Linked DNA regions of Homo sapiens: all the other regions are linked to region 3. The links come from fine-mapping of genetic effects on gene expression. A gene starts in region 3. Each other region holds a variant in brackets. All regions are shown on one strand. Distances are between the middles of the regions.

Region 1 (2,686 bases), 87 kb after region 3:
AACACTCCAGCCCTCTTCTCCTATTTGGATTCCAGAAAGTTGGCAGCCAGATCTTCTTCCTCCAGACAAGAGATGGGGTGAGTCTTCCCTGGGGATCCTGAGCAGCCCAAGAGAGAAGGCTGAATGATATTGACAAGGCACTTCCTCAAGCAAATGGCCAAGGAGTCACCCTCCTGTGAAACTCCCAGGGCACCAGCCCCACTGTGGGCTCACAGCATCCAATTATCTTTAGAATTTTGTTACCCAGGCCTGAGAAAAAGCTCTCAAGTGAAAGAGAAGAAAGAAACTAAACAGAGAATAGTGAAGGCAACTGGGAAGAAACAGAGACCACCTAAGGAACCATAAATAAAAACAGAAAACTTTTTCTCCAAGGGCTGTTTCCAAAACAGAGGGAGGCAGAGAGAGAATGAGAACAACAGAGAAATGGGAGAGAAAAAAAAAGAAAAAGACAACTGATCCAGGAGGTGAATGCTTGAATAAAAGGAGTTCTAGAAAGACAGAACATAGAAAACAGAGAGGGGAAAATCATGCATGAACTAATTCAAGAAATTTTCCTGTGAATTTCTAGATCGAAAAGGCCACTCACTGTGCGGAGCAAAGGGATGGAAATAGACACACTCCAAGGCTCATCCCTGTGACATTCCAGGACACCGAGAACAAAAAGAAAACGCTGATAAAGTGAAGACAACAGATCACATATTGCCATAGTTATCATAATTGCTCCTGACTTTTCAACAACAATAGGAGCAAGAAGGTAACATAGCAATGCCTTCAAAATCCTGAGGACAAATTGTTTCCAACTCAGAATTTTTTATATCAGTCAAACTGTCATGGTAAAACAGGCATTTTTAAATATAAAAGTTGTCAAAATGTATTTTCCATTCCCCCTTTCTCCCGTAGTTACTCAAGGATGGGTTCCACCAGTACAAAGGAGTAAACAAAGATCCAAGAATCAAGAAAACGTTGTAGAGGAGACAAAGAGAAGCCCCAGAAACATGAGGAAGAGACAGCTGTGTACCAACTGGTGGAGGCAGTGCATCCATACAGGGCAAAAAAAGGCTGCAGGCATGACTTTTTAGGAAGATGCTCAACAAAATACTTGCTGAGAAAAAAAAAAACAAAACTTAGAAATGCTGGTTCCAAAACATGTGCTTTTGTTTGTTTGTTTTTTCTTGTTCTGACTTTTAATTCATTACACCACTGCTCTCCAAGAAAAGGCTATCAATTATTCCCTTCCAACAATGCATAAGAATGACTTTTTCCCTACTTCTCCAGGACAGAATATAATTATCATTTATTTTAATCTTTTTTGAACTGTTAAAAAGATAAACTGAGGCACAGTAAAATTTTAAAGAGTTTTGGTGA[G/GT]TTTTTTTTAGCATGAACAATTTATGAACTGAGCAGCTCCGAACCAGAAATAGTTTGGGAGCTCCACTGAGGAACACAAAGAGGAGACTTTTATAAGACAGACACAGAAGTAAAGCAAAGTATTTAATTGGTTACTGTTATACAATTGCTTTTTTTGGTCTCTCAACTTGGAAAGCCCCTCGTTATCTAAGTTTGTATAAATAGTAACTTCTGATTGGTTGAGCTTAAGTTCTGCTTTTAAAAATATATATATAGATATAGATATATATAGGCATTCACAAGAAATAGCTCAAGTTAAGTTTGGTTATGTTTGCAAATCAAGCAAGGTTTAGGTCACTTACAAATCATAACTTCTTTTGTCCCCTCTGGGATTCTTCAGGTCTGGTCTCCATTTTAATTTACTTTAACAATCCCACCGCGTTGGGTCACCCTCTCAGCAAGCTAAGAAGAAGGTGGTAGCATTCCTCTCAGTTACCACTAGTGAAATAGTCACTGGAACAAAGAGTCATGTAATCTTATCCTCAACAGTTGTATTGGGATATAAGATTACATGGCATCATTACCTGCATCATGGGCTTCAGTGGTAGGGTTGTTGAGTTCTTCAAGTCAATTAATGATGATGGCAATCATTTGATGTGTGAGTGCCTTCTGGAAAGCTTTGAAATCCTTGAGAGGATAAGATATAGTAGGATGGTAAACAAAATGACTACAGAGAGAATAATAGCCAAGGATTTTTAAATTCCCTGGAGCACAGATTCCCAGGAGCCAATATTTCACCAATAAAATAAATCAGTGGAGGAGGCAACACCTGTCTGATAAAAGACATATTTGTTCCTTAAGATCCTTTAAATTGGGCTCAACAATTTCTAATTTATTAATATAGAAACAATATTTTTTTTTACAAATAAGAGCCTCCTTGTTAAGTTGCTAAGGTATCAAGGACTTCTATTTTGGAGTACTATTGAGGTTAAATTGTTTATTTCAGATAGTATTGCTTGAAGGGAATTCAAGGTAGCATTCTATAAAAACAAAAGAAAAAAAAAAGGTTAACATTAGGAACAAATTATGATCTTAGTCTTTAAGTCCAGAGAGCAGCCTGTCAAGATTTCTAAATTTGAGTTTGAAGCATTTTTAGATGATGGAATGAGGATGGCAATTGCAACCTGATGGATTTTCCTGGCTTGCAGTTTGAATGTCTCTGGAAATATCATCAGGTGTTCCAGTGAATTCTCCAAGTGACCCACACAGCAGCAGCATGAAAATTTTCCATACATGGTCTGTTGTAGTAATTTTTCTGAATTTAAAGTCATCCAATTTCAGC
Region 2 (2,686 bases), 25 kb before region 3:
TACCTGTGTCATCTGCTCCTTCAGTGTGTGGGGACCCAGCTGGACTCCCGTGATTATGTATGCTCCCCCTACTCACTAGTGCCATGTTTCTACTCCTTAGATGGGACTGTCAAAAGGTAAACTGAGGCACAATAAAATTTTAAACAGATTATTTCAGCAAACAACAATTCATGAATCAGGCAGCTCCAAACAGAAGAGGTTGAGGAGCTCCACTGGGGGAATGCAAGGGGAAGACTCCTACAGGACAAGTAAACTGAAGAAAATATTTAATTAGTTATAGTTATATAGTTCCCTTATTTGGCCTATCCTGTTGGAAAGACCCTAGTTAATTATATAAGTTTCTTTTGATTGGTTGAGCTTAAGTTCTATTTTTCCTTAATATACACATTTACAAGAAATAGCTCGTGTTAAGTTTCACTGATATTTGCAAATCAAGCAAAGTTGAGGTCACTTATGAGGCCTAACTGTTTTTTTAATTTTTGCTCAGGGACTCTTCAGGCCTGGTCTCCATTTTCATTAATTTTAACAGGACTCAGAGCAAAAAGTCCTCAAGCTTGCATGGCCACAATCTTAAATTGACCTTGAAGCCCCAAGCTCCAAGCAAAGAAGTCTATCTCGGCTGACCCTAAGCTTTTGTAGTCTCTCAACTCATTCACTCACTCATTAATTCATTCATTCATTTGTTCATTCCCACAACCTCATTGCTATGCATGGGGCTAGGTAGGCACTGGGGGCGTAGGAATGAGACACGATTGTCACTTGAGACCTCTCAGCTCACAGACGTGTTTTGTTTTCCTTATTCACCCTTCCTTTTTCAATGTTTCTCACCCAGTCCTCAGAACTTCCTGAGCTCCCTGAGTTCAGGGGCCATCTCCCCTCCCCAGCACACACAGTAAGTTCCTCCATCCCTTCCCCCATCAGAACAGTAAGTTGCTTCAGGAGTGGGGGATTTATCTCTTGTGGGGACTTTATGCGCTTGGAATCCATGATTCTATGAAACTGATACAGTGCGCCCAGCACTGAGCCAATCATCGTCTAAAGTGTGACCCTTGGGATCACTGTGCTGATGAGGGTAGAAAGAATCAAACATTCATTCGCTGATCGAGGAAGTATGCACTGGATTCAATCTTTCTTAAGAGAAATTTGGAAGCATTGGTCAAAATCATTAAAAATACGTATACATTAGACTTTTACATCTATCATTTGATTTAATACAGCAGTGTATTTTGTCTTTATATTTATTTTTCCCATTTAAAAATTAAGGCCTAATTTACATACAGTACTATTCACCCTTTTCAGTGACGAGTTCTGGGAGTTCTAGAGACTTGTATCCAATGCCGTAATGGAGACAGAGAAGAGTGCCATCATCCC[G/C]AAAAGCTTTCCTCTGCTCCTTGTTAGTCATCCCTTCAGTCCCAGACAAACACTGATCTGGTGGGGTTTTTTCCTGTCATTTCTCTCTTTCCAGAATGGAAAAGTGAAGCACTTTATGTTGATTTATTCTGGTGAAGTCCAATATATAATTTTTATGAATCAATTTTTATGTCATATCTAATAAATCTTTGCTTAACCCAAGGTCACAATGACTTTTTTCAACAATTCTGTGAGCTATAATTCACATAATATAAAACTGACCCATCTAAAGCATACAATTCAGTGGTTTTCAATATATTCACTGAGTTGTACAACTAACACCAATTTTGCAGGATTTCCCCACCCAAAGAAACCCCATGCCCGTTAGCAGGCACTCCCTGGATCCGTTTACTGCAGACTTGGTGGCTTAAAACAGTATTAAGTTATTGTCTCGCCATTCTGAAGGCAGAAGTCTGAAGTCAGTTCACACTGTATTGAGATGAAGATGTCGACAGGGCTGCAGTCTCTCCAGAGACACTAGGGAAAAATTTGTTCCTTGCCTTTCCAGCTTCAGGTAGCTGCCAGCATTCTTTGGTTTGGGGCTGTTTTACTCCAATCTTCAAGGCCAGCATCTTCAGTCTCCCTCTGCTCCATCTTCCCATCACTTTCTCCTCTTTGTGTTCAAATCCCACTCTGACTCTCTTACATAAGGATACATGTGATTGCATTTAGTTCCCATCTACGTAATCCAGGATAATCTCACCATCTCAAGATGTTTAACTCACTCATATCAGCAAAGATCATTTTTTTTTTGTTTTTTGCCATATAAGGGTAACAATCACAGGTTCCAGGGATTAGGACACAGATATCTTTTAAGAGACCATTTATCAGCTTACCACAGTCCCCATTCCTACAGTCCCAGGCAACCACTAATATTTTTGTCTTTCTAGACAAAAATATCTTCAATCAAAAATGCCTTTATCAATTCTGGATATGTCATAAAAACATAATTGAACAATATGTGTTCCTTGTGACTGGATTCTTTCATTTGGCATGTTTTCCAGGTTTGTCCATGTTGTAGCTGTACTTGTGCTATACGTTGTATTAATACATCATTCCTTTTAAAGGCTGAATAATATTCCACTGAATGGATATATATGTTTACCATTTATCAGTTGACAAATATTTTATTTGTTTCCACTGTTCAACTATTATAAGCAGTGTTACTATGACTATTCATGTACAAGTTTTTGTGTGGACATACGTTTTCATTTCTCTTGAGTACATAACCAATAGTAGAACTACTGGGTCATATGGCAACTCTATGTTTAACATT
Region 3 (2,686 bases):
CTCTCAGTCCCTTCAGGCTGCTATGAGAAGATGCCTTAGACTGGAGACTTTCTAAATAATAGAAATCTCTTTCTCAAAGTTCTGGAGTCTGGGAAGTCAAAGATCAAGGTGTCAGTGGATGTGGTATCTGCTGAGGGCTGCTCTCTGCTTCCAAGGTGGTGCTTTCTTGCAGTAACCTCAGTTGACTGAAGGCATGAACACTGTCCTCATATGGCAGACAGCGCAAATCTGCTTCCTGCAATCTCTGGTATAAGGGCATTAATTGCATTCTTGAGGATGACGCCCTCATGACTTAAGATTTTCCCACAAGATCCCACCTCTTAACGCTATCACATGGAAATTAAGTTTGAATATATGAGATGGGGGAACAACATTCTGAACACAGCAGAATCCTTATGCATGGGATATTTGTCTATTCCCCCCCCCAGTTCTTTATTCAGTCATTTACTTACATCAGCATGGACTCCTAGAGATTTAATATATACATTGGGTAGTAATCCAGTACCACTTGGTTTTGTTGCTAGATAGTTCTCACTTCGGCCATTTTCTTTTTCTGTACATTTTACACACGCGTTGTTCTTTCATCCACTGATGTATTCATCCAACAAGCACTGATTGAGATGATCCCAAGCTACCATAACTGATCCACTCCTACCTGCCTTCCCCTCCAACTTTCCCTGACCAGCACTCTCTTTCCTCCCTGCTTTCCTGGCCCCACCATTTCCAGGGAACATCTTGTAATTCCTGGGATTAAAATCTGCCCTCTACAAAATGTCTCAGGGTCAAAACTCATCATCAACCCACCATGGCTAGACCAGAAGGATTCAGGGGTCTGGTCGTGCCTCCAAGGGCCCTGACCACCTATAGGAAGTGCACAGAGAGAAGGAAAGAGGGATGACCCCAGCTTTATTCACCAGCTTTATTCTTGGCCATGCTGAGAGCTGCCCCTAGCAATAGAGGAGCAGTATGACTGGCTGGAAGGCATAAAGCAGCAGACATGGGGAGAAGTTCAGTGAAAGGCGGCAGAGCAACACAGCAGGGCTGAGGTGCCCAGGCCCAGAGACAGACCCTGTAGCTGGTGGCCCCTTTCAAGGCCTGGCTGCCCCTCCTCCCCTGGTCTGCAGAGCCCGCCCTCCCAGGCCGACCATTTCCCCAGCAAGACATTGACTTCCTCAATTTTACCAGCTGAGAGACACTGGGAACCTGGGGCAGAATCAGACCCAGCGTCTGACTCCTCCTGAGAGGGCTCCCTTTTTTCTCCTCTCCTCCGCTGTCAGAAACAGATCTGGGCTGGAATGGCCTGGGGTGGGGTCCACACCTGCTGCTTCCACCTGTGCTGCTGCTGCTCCTGGCCTCAGGTGACATGGAGGGAAAGAGTGCAGGGGGTGTAAGGAGTGGGATGAAGAATGAGTGGGGCAGGGAGCAGCATGGCTGTGTGACCATAGGACAGAATTTAGGGGCCCTCTTCCATGTGTGGGCATCAGAACTAGTTCCCCCTCCCCTTCCCCAGCCTGTGATGGGGGAGGTTGGGTCCCTTCAGAGCTCTGACCTGGGTTTCTTTCTGCCGGTTCCTGGGTAAAGGGTGCTGTGCCTGAAGAACTTCACAAACACCCAGGACAGACCCTCCTCCTGCAATGCCAGTACTCACCCAAGAGAGGGCCCTATCAGCCCAAATCCTGGTGTCAGCAGACATCTCCAAGTCGGTGTACCTTACTTGTCACCAGCTCCAAGCCCTGGACAGCAGTTCAGAAGTCTCATTACACAATCTGGGACAAGCCCAATGCTGGCTTCTTCAACATCACCATGATTCAGCTGACACAGAATGACTCGGGATTCTACTGGTGTGGAATCTACAACGCTTCCGAAAACATCATCACTGTTCTTAGAAATATCAGCCTGGTGGTGTCTCCAGGTGAGCTCTTTTCTTGAGGAAATACCTCTGTGCCACCCCCCAGGGACCTGAAGGAAATGTCATGCACCCCCTCCCATGCCTCTATCATCCCCCATCCTGCCAGGTATTCTGCTGTGGTCCAAGGGGAGCAAAGATCCTGTCCCCAAACATGGACTCTCACCTCTCCTCCACCCGGTACATCCTGGCCTCAATTGTTGGGAAGGTACCCTCAGAGGTCCCTGGACAGAGACACAGTCTGTCTGTCACTCTGCGTCTCTCTTTGTCTTACACAGGCACACCCACAACTCTTCTTTTCACACACACACTAACACACACACACCAACAACTCTGTCATGCAGATCTTAGGCACAGACCACTCCTGGCTTAAGACATCCTGAGGGTCTGGCTCTGGGCCCCTACCTCCTCTTATGTATGGGGTAGACCCTACTCTCTTCTGGGCCCCTGGAGAGTCATTGTCTGCTGTCTTTTCTCTTTAGCCCCAACCACGTCTCCTATGTGGACTCTTCCCTGGCTCCCAACAAGCACAGGTAGGTTGGAGGCCTCGGTGGGGGAAGATTAGAAGGGTCACCAGGCAGCTTGGGAGCCTCAGATTCAGGGAAGGGGAAACCAGGGAGGCCTGCCTCTGAGGACTGATCTCTTGGGGCCTGGGCTTGTGGGAAGCTACCTTCAGGGCCCACTGTCTCTTAGGGAGAGAAACATGCACTATCTGATGTGATCAGAAGATCGCCATGTTCTCACGATGATGGGAGGGTGTCCCCAGAGGGAAGTCCATAT
Region 4 (2,686 bases), 100 kb after region 3:
GTGGAACCTGCAATGCATTCCCTGCAGAGTGATCTCCAGTAGGCTTCGGAGAGAGTAAGGGCTGGGGCCCTGTCAAGATGCTGCACAGGGAGAATTCCCCCAGGAGCTGTCCACAGGAGCCCCTGAGAAGGTGGAGGCTGAAGGGAGGAGTCAGCTAAGGGCAGATGTGCAGATACGTGTTTGAGCTGGGCAGCCTGAACTTGGCAGAACAGAGCGGGGACAGAGGGGAGCCGGAGCTGGCCGTGGTGGTGACTGAGTGATTTAGGGAAATTAAAGCAAGAGGGGAGATCATGGAGGAGGAAGATTCTCAGGTTGGGCAAAGAGGCTGAACTGGGTTTGGTCTCCCCTGTTTGGGGCGTTGGATCAGATGCACAGGGAGTGTTCCAGAGGGGCTGGGGACAGCAATGTGGGAGGGTCCCACCACAGCAGGGATTTAGGTACTGGTAGGTGTCTTCTGCAGGCACTGGATGGCCCCTTCCTTACTCATTATCTCAGCTGTCCCAGAGTGGCAAGAGCTGAGCATCGCCCCTCGGCCTGTGCTGAGCTGAAGCCTTCAGAGACCTCCATAGCTGCTGCCCCCAGGGTGTTCGTGAAGTGTGTGCACCGCCTGGCCCTGCTCCTCTCCAGGACTGCCCTTCTCCAGCTCTGTCACCCCCTAACTTGGGGCTGGTTTCTATGGAGCAGAGTGGTCTGCTGAAGGAGGGAGTGCTGAAGGAGGGAGTGAGTGTCTGTGTGAGTGTGGGTGCACTTGGGTGAGGGCCTGAGAGTTTAAAGGCAAGGATCTTGATTGGCCTGTAATAAGCAAATGAGCAAACAGAGATGACGGCCAAAGGATATTGAAATCGATGTTAAACATAATTTTCTAACCCTACCCCTGATTTTTGTCTCATCTTCTGAGGCTGACCACCTTTACCAGCACAGCTGTCCCCACTGTGCTCCATTTCGCTCCTCCTCTCTGGCCCCAGGCCAAACCCAGCCATACTCCCCCTGCTCCAGCCTGCAGCTCGGGAGCACATGAAGGGCTGACAGCACCAGGCAGCACAGAGACC[G/A]GGGCCCTGGGGGCGGCTGAACGGGGTGAGGGGGTTGGAGGATGGGGTTGGTTCCATGGAGTAAGGAAGGAGAAGAAGCAGGGAGAACCCAGCTGGGGAGATGGCTGCTTCCTGCACTCCCTGAGCCCAGGCCTCCCGCAGGGTGCTTAGGGTGGAAGCCTGGTTCTGTGCCTGACCCACCCTGAACTTCCTGTGAGGGAGCTGTGCGCCCAGACTGCAGCCTTGTGTGGGCAGTAGCTCAGGTCCCTCTGACCTCTCTGGCAGGGAAAAAGCTGCTCTGAGACCAGATGCTTTGAACCTGGCATCCTGGGACCAGGAAGGGCCATTGTTATGGGACCATTGTCATGGGAGCAGGAATAACCCTGTCAGGGCAATTGATGACTGAAGGATCCTGCTGGAGCTGGGGCAGAGAGCCATTGGGGTCAGAGGTATAAGCAGACTTGTTGGGGTTCAGGGAGAAGACTCCTTGGATCTGCAAAAGGCAAGCCTGGATGAAGAGTAAGGAAGTGCCCATGGAGAATCTCTGAGCCCAGGAGGAGCACCAGGTCAGGAGAGAGGAGGCCTGGGTGCTAGTCCTGGTTTGGCCCTGAAATAGCTGAGTGACTGTGGAAAGGCTACTTGCCTTCTCTGGACCTCATCTCCCTCAGTTGTGAAATCAGCACTGAGAGAAATTCCCTTTTGTCCCTGCTACTTCTGGTTCTATCATGGGGGAAATTTACAGCTACCCCTTCACCCCTGCCCAGCCTAGCTTAGCCCTGTGCTGCGTTTTGGGGATCACCTCCAGACCTCTACGGCTCCCTGCTTTCCCCATTTCTGCATCAGAGGCCAGCCCTCCCTTCCCATGGACCTACCCAGGCTCGGAGCCACTGTTGCAGGCTAGACTGGGCCTTGCTAGAAAAGCAAGTACATGAAGTCTCCAGCTCTCCCAGCTCCTTCTCTGGGTTCCTGTGAGTGTGTGTGACAATGAGTTTGGGAGAGGAGGTTGCTGAGGTTCCCAAGTTCTCTGAGGGACCTTCTCAGAGGGTGGGCAGGGAACCCAGAATCCCCCAGAACCCCAGGCTCTTTGACAGGACTTTGCTGTGCCCTGCTCTGATCGTGCCAAGGGGGAGGCACTATCCCTAGCTCTTCAAGAGACTTCTGAAAGGGCCCCAGATCCCACCACAGCTACCTGCCCCAGTCCCTCCTGCAGAAATTCAACTTGTGACAAGGGCTGTTGTGGGTCCCCAGGGAGCAGGGCCAGTCCCAGCCTGGATGAGGGGCTGCCTAAGCCCAGGCTTCCCTGCCCCCAGGTCCCAGATGCCAGAGGAAGCTGAGCGTGCAGATGGTTCCAGCAGGGGCCTCCCCCTAGGGTGCTCAAGGCCCCAAGTCTATGTGGAGGGTGCCCACCCCACTCACACAGGTGGGGAAGCCACAACACAGAGAGAGGGGCAGATTCCCCGCTTTGAGAGCTCCTGTCCCCTGGGGAGAGACGACACACTCTGACACAGCAGAGAACGATACAGAGCTGGCTGCAGGCTGAAGAGACACACAGCTAGTGGCACATAGCAAGGGGTGCTCTTGTAAGCTACAAGAAGGAGCTGTCACTTAGAGTCAGCAGGGGTCAGAGAAGGGGAAAGTCAGCATGGGAACACAGTTGC

Evidence for each region. PIP is the estimated chance that this variant, and not a neighbour inherited with it, causes the effect.
Region 1: its variant is fine-mapped to the expression of TREML4 in whole blood (INTERVAL, PIP above 0.99).
Region 2: its variant is fine-mapped to the expression of TREML4 in whole blood (INTERVAL, PIP above 0.99).
Region 4: its variant is fine-mapped to the expression of TREML4 in spleen (GTEx, PIP 0.98).

Annotation. Positions count from the first base shown.
Region 1 is chr6:41,313,841-41,316,526 of GRCh38, forward strand. No RefSeq gene overlaps it. Among named protein-coding and RNA genes, the nearest start is that of NCR2, 20 kb to the right of the region's middle. The variant G/GT (reference allele first, on the strand shown) is at 1,366.
Region 2 is chr6:41,202,183-41,204,868 of GRCh38, forward strand. No RefSeq gene overlaps it. Among named protein-coding and RNA genes, the nearest start is that of TREML2, 2.4 kb to the left of the region's middle. The variant G/C (reference allele first, on the strand shown) is at 1,372.
Region 3 is chr6:41,227,133-41,229,818 of GRCh38, forward strand. It overlaps TREML4 (triggering receptor expressed on myeloid cells like 4), which reads left to right and starts at 1,217. Exons shown (of 6, transcript NM_198153.3): 1 at 1,217-1,358; 2 at 1,582-1,912; 3 at 2,389-2,439. The coding sequence starts at 1,296.
Region 4 is chr6:41,331,439-41,334,124 of GRCh38, forward strand. No RefSeq gene overlaps it. Among named protein-coding and RNA genes, the nearest start is that of NCR2, 2.8 kb to the right of the region's middle. The variant G/A (reference allele first, on the strand shown) is at 1,050.